2 separate regions of the Homo sapiens genome follow, and region 1 is linked to region 2. The links come from fine-mapping of genetic effects on plasma protein levels. A gene starts in region 2. The other region holds a variant in brackets. All regions are shown on one strand. Distances are between the middles of the regions.

Region 1 (2,907 bases), 26 kb before region 2:
TGTACACCTAGGCTATTCTGAATGTATAACATATTTTTCTTTCTTCAATAATAAATTAATTTTAGCTTACCTTAACTTTTTTACTTTATAAACTTTTTAACTTTAAACTTTGTGCCTCTTTTATAATAACAGCTCAAAACACATTGCACAGCTATATAAAAATATCTTCTTCTTTCTTTATATCCTTATTCTGCAAGCTTTTTCTATTTTTTAATTTTTTCTAACTTTTTTGTTAACTAAGACACTGTGTTAGGCCATTCTTGCATTGTTATAAAGAAATATCTGAGGCTGGGTAATTTATAAGAAAAGAGGTTTAATTGGCTTATGGTTCTGCAGGCTGTACAGGAAGCATAGTGGCATCTACCTCCAAGGAGGCCTCAGGAAGCTTTTACTCATGGCTGAAGCAGGCACATTACATAAGGAGAATGGGAGCAAGTGTAAGGTGGGAGTAGGCACCATGCACTTGTAAACAGCCAGATCTCAGAAGTCACTCACTATTACCAGGACAGCACCAAGAGGATGGCACTAAACCATTCATAAGAAACCCGCCTCCATGATCCAAGCACCTCCCACCAGGCCCCACCTCCAGCACTGAAGATGACAATTCAACATGACATTTACATGAGATTTAGGCGGGGGCAAATATACAAACTCTATCAGAAACAAACACACTCATTAGTCTAGGCCTACACAGAGTCAGGAGCATCAGTATCACATCTTCCACCTCCACATCTTGTCTCACTGGAAGCCCTTCAGGGGCAATGACAGGCAGGGAGCTGTCATCTATGAAAACAATGCCTACTTCTGGATGCCTCCTGAAGGACCTGATTAGGCTGTTTTTTTATAAGTAGAAGGAGTAAACTGTAAAATAATGATTAAAAGTGTTGTATAGTAAATGCATAAACCAGTTAACATAGTCATTTATTATGATTATCAAGTATTAGGTAATTTACTTAATGGTATTTGGTATACTTTTATACAACTGGCAGTGCAGTAGGTTTGCTTACATCAGTATCACTACAAACACATGAGTAATGCTACATTATGAGGGCTATGATGCCACTAGACGATAGGAATTTGTCAGCTCCATTATAATCTTATGGGGACACCATAGTGTATACGACAGTCCATCATTGACCAGTATGTCCTTATGTGGTGGATGACTATCATACCGAATCTATGCAAACTCATTCAAAGTATGAAAGACAATGGATACTATAAGAAAACCACAGAACAATAGCATTTGTGCACATAGATGCATAAATCCTCAAAAATTCTTACAAATAAAATCCAGCAATATGTAAAAATGC[T/C]AATATGTCATGATCAAGTATGTTTGGCTGGCTCGAAATCTGAAAGTCAGTCAATGTAATTCATCTTATTAATAGACTAAAGAAGAGAAAATGGATCATCTCATGGATACAGATAGAACACCCGATTAAATTAAACATATATTCATGATAAAAATGCAAAGCAAATTAAAAATTGAAGAGAACTTCTCCAGTCTGAAAAGGGACTCTAGGCCAGGCGCGGTGGCTCACGCCTGTAATCCCAGCACTTTGGGAGGCTGAGGCAGGCGGATCACGAGGTCAGAAGATCGAGACTATCCTAGCTAACATGGTGAAACCCCGTCTCTACTAAAAATAGAAAAAATTAGCCGGGCATGGTGGCGGACACCTGCAGTCCCAGCTACTTGGGAGGCTGAGGCAGGAGAATGGCATGCACCTGGGAGGTGGAGCTTGCAGTGAGCTGAGATGGTGCCACTGCACTCCAGCCTGGGTGACAGAGCAAGACCCTGTCTCAAAAAAAAAAAAAAAGAAAGAAAGAAAGAAAGAAAGAAAGAAAGAAAGAAAGAAAGAAAGAAAGAAAGAAAGAAAAGAAAAGGGACTCTAAAAAACAAACCGCTACAACAGAATACTTATGGAGGAAAGGCTGCCCAGTTTTGCCCTTAGTTCAGTCAAAAGGCAAGATGTTCATTCTAACAACTTTTGCATTCCAGGTCTTAAAGTAACTTGAAATTAGAGAGGTTCCCCAAATGCCCTCTTCTTCACCACCTCCCTCTTTCATCTACCATCCTCCATCAAGGGCATATAAGCAAAGAAGGACACCAGAAGGACCTGTGGCCTCCAGCGGGTGACAGGAGGATTATGGGACAGAGGAGCAGGTGAATCACCCCATCAGGCTGCAATTTTGCATCTTGGGCCCACTGAGAGGGTTGTGGCTTTGATTCTGTCAACTGGAGTATTACTGTAATGGGTAAAACATGTTGATTACTATAGTGCACTGGATGGAATGTGATTCTTTAAGAGTGTTGAGTCTGGAAATTCGGGAAGGCCTATTACTAGTGTTGTTGGAAGAGAAAGTGGGAAAAGCCACTGCAAGGTGAAAGGCTTTCACGGACAACTCAGTAACGAATAGCTGTCTGATCATGATGCCTGTGGGACCGGGGATAAGTCACCGCAATCTCCTGTGTTAATGTCCTCATCTGTGCAATCGGCATTTAAACCAAGGGAGGCACTGTTGCTTTAATATGCCACATCAATAGGCTGAATAAGAATAATTACAGGAATTTAAAAGTATGAGAAGAAACAGGTGAGCATTTAGCTCCTAATTTAAAATTTAAAAGGGCATCACAAATAGCATGGCATTTTATAATATATAACAGGATATGCTAAGATGTTTCTGCATGCACACATTCTTTTCCAGGAAAATCAATGACCAGGAGCACAGACCTCCCAAAATTGTGTCTTAACGAGGCTTCCAAAGCTTCTACTTATATTTTGGTAAGAACTAAGAAAGCCCAGCATACGGTTTTTAATTAAAACCAAGTGTTTATATGTGGCTGCAAAATAGTGGTTTTCCCCCCTGGTTACACAAATTATAGAGGATAAAAATGGTACAAACATCTCT
Region 2 (2,907 bases):
ACTAAAAATACAAAAACAAAATTAGCTGGGGGTGATGGCGGACGACTGTAGTCCCAGCTACTCAGGAGGCTGAGGCGGCAGAAAGGCATGAACCCGGGAATCGAGCTTGCAGTAAGTGGAGATCGCGCCACTGCGCTCCAGGCTAGGCCACAGAGCGAGACTCCGTCTGAAAAAAAAAAAAAAGAGAGAGAGAGAGAGAAAGAAATCCTCCATCCAGCCCTGTTGGTTGTGTATGTGTTGGAGGGGGTGGAGGGGCAGCCTTCTCAGGCTTTCAAGGAGGGCTCCCTAGCACCTCAGCTAAGATTTGTTTGTCTATACTATTAAAAGATAGACATAACTGTGTCCCAAACCAGCCTCCCCAGTTCCCACCAGCCAGAGCGCCTGACCTTGCAGGGAAGCTTATCTGTTTACCGTCCGAGCACTTTCAGGGATTCTAAAATGCCGTGAGTGGGAACCACTGCCATGGGCCATTTCCATGAAAATTCAATTTCGGGGATTAATTTGAACAGGTACTATTGACGTTTTCTCGTTTACACAAGATCAAAGAGTAAAAACAACCGGGCCTCTGCTTAACAGTTGAGGATTCTAGCAAAGTTAGGAAACAGGTTTCTATTTGTAGTAGAAGAGAGAGCAGGCAGAAAGAGGAAGATGGGAGCGGGGAGAGATTGGCAGAGATTCAGAAAGTTCGCGCTTGAGATTTTTACGTTTCTTACTCGTAAACGTCTATTTCTCTGGGTTTCTGAATGCAAAGACGAGAAAGTCTCAACAGTCTGCTAAACTAACACGGCCTTCGAATCCCAATCTGAACACAGTAGCTGAAACAAGCTGTCCACAAAGAGGAAAGCCAGAGGGGGCCAATTAGGAAGGAAGAAATTAAAGAAAAGAGAAAAGCCAAGATGAAAGGTCCAGCGCAAAGTGAATGACTCGACTGGAGAATGGCAGCCCTGGCAGGGTCTGCGGCCGGCTGCGGAGGTGGGGACGCGGCCGCGCGGACGAGTGACAGGTTGGTCCGGCGCAGCAAAGGGAGCGGGTGCGGCGGTAGGGCCTCTCCGGGGGCAGCGCGAGGGCCTCCCCCGGGGCAGCGCGGGCCAAGGCGGGGCCTCCAGAGCGGGGGCAGCAGAGGAGGGAGCGGAACGGGAGCCGGGCGGAGGCGGCTGCGGCAGGGGGAGGCGGGAGGCGGGCGCGCTAGCTCCCATGCTGGCCTCGGTGCCACTCGCGCGCCGGCCGCGCTCCGGGCTTCTCTTTTCCCTCCGACGCGCCACGGCTGCCCAGACATTCCGGCTGCCGGGTCTGGAGAGCTCCCCGAACCCCTCCGCGGAGAGGAGCGAGGCGGCGCCAGGGTGGCCCCCGGGGCGCGCTTGGTCTCGGAGAAGCGGGGACGAGGCCGGAGGATGAGCGACTGAGGGCGACGCGGGCACTGACGCGAGTTGGGGCCGCGACTACCGGCAGCTGACAGCGCGATGAGCGACTCCCCAGAGACGCCCTAGCCCGGTGTGCGCGCCAGGCGGAGCGCGCAGGTGGGGCTGGGCTGTTAGTGGTCCGCCCCACGCGGGTCGCCGGCCGGCCCAGGATGGGCGCTGGCAACCCGGGCCCGCGCCCGCCGCTGCTACCCCTGCGCCCGCTGCGAGCCCGGCGTCCGGCCCGCGCCCTGCGCTCATGTATGTAGGTTTGGCGCCGGTCTTCAGGGCTGAGGGTGCATGCTGGGTGTCCCCGCGCGGCCGGACGCGCTCCAGCTGGGTTCAGCCGCTCAGCTGCTCCGGAGGAACCCCCTCCCCCGCCCAAGTTTGTGAATATGGGCGCTTCGCCCAGTGTTGAGGTCGGCAGGGACCGGGCAGGGGGTCAGCAGGGCCGGGCACGTCCGGAGCCCTCAGGGAGGAGGGCTGAGGGGGAGGGGACAGACGCACCGGAGTGCGCAGAGTGGGGGCGTTCGGGGAGTGAGGCGGAGAGAGGCTGGATTGCCGGTGTCCTGCGGCGTCTCGGGCTCTCCCAGCCCCTTTGGGCGGCAGAAACTTTGGAATCCAGAAAGGCTGGCCGGGATCCAGCGAGTAGGAGGGTCTCGCGCCCACTCTGCGCCCTGGGGCCCCAGCCTCCCGCACTGCACACCTTGGTGCTGCCCGGGCGCTTCTGCTCCGCAGCCAGGACACTACAAGACTGAGCGCTGCGGCCGGCGACCTGGCTCCCAAGGCTCGGAGGGGCGGGCCGGCAGAGGAGCTGAAGCCCCGGGAATCCCCGACCCGGCCCTCTGGCAAGGGGCCGAGGGCATCCTTTCATGCAGCGGGGCTTAGAGAGCGGGGAGGGGGCGTCTGCTCCCGAGACGGGAGTCTTTTAAGAAGTTGTTAGAAATGAATCGTGGAGTCCTAGGAGAAGCTTTGTTTAACCTCCCCGCATTTTCCCAGCACAACCCCCTAAAGCAAATGAGGAAGAGTTTCCCTCTTATCTTCCTGTACATTCGTCCGTCTCTAACTCCACTGCTGAATTCTCCATTTAATAACCTTCGGGAAATGTGGCCAGGACCTAGGGAGGGACACCCTGGGTGCCTGAATTACGTGGTTCAAGGCAGAGCTTTGCAGGGGGGCGCGGGCCTGGCTCGCTGCGTTCCCTGGGCTCCGCAAGCCGCCCTTGGCCATCTCCAACACTAATCACGACTACATCAGAAACACGCCGGCCGGTGTCGTTCTTGGATTTCGCTTCCAATGTATCGCTCCACAGTTTGTGATGTCTAAGAACCCCGGCCGTGCACCGACGCTGGGCATGCTGCCCCCGCCCCCGTCGCCCAGCTCGTTAATCTAGAGCTATGCCGGAGCCCGGGTGGGGGCCGCGGCGGGCCGGGGCGCGCGCGGGCCGCGGGGCTCAGTTGTGCTGCTGTTCTCTCCGCAGGGACGGCGGCTCCCGGCTGGCGGCGGCGCG

Which allele goes with the higher level. Positions count from the first base shown, and alleles are read on the strand shown. Strength reflects both the effect of a copy and how common the allele is.
With allele C in place of T in region 1, the plasma level of the protein whose gene starts at base 1,183 in region 2 is lower (strong association).

The links. PIP is the chance, under the fine-mapping model, that this variant and not a neighbour inherited with it causes the effect. Protein levels are from antibody-based Olink assays in UK Biobank. Linkage for the fine-mapping came from a reference panel and not from the study's own genotypes, which makes the PIPs less certain.
Region 1: its variant is fine-mapped to the plasma level of the VWC2 protein (UK Biobank, PIP 0.92).

The regions. Positions count from the first base shown.
Region 1 is chr7:49,746,953-49,749,859 of GRCh38, forward strand. No RefSeq gene overlaps it. Among named protein-coding and RNA genes, the nearest start is that of VWC2, 25 kb to the right of the region's middle. The variant T/C (reference allele first, on the strand shown) is at 1,311.
Region 2 is chr7:49,772,456-49,775,362 of GRCh38, forward strand. It overlaps VWC2 (von Willebrand factor C domain containing 2), which reads left to right and starts at 1,183. Exons shown (of 4, transcript NM_198570.5): 1 at 1,183-1,658; 2 at 2,878-2,907.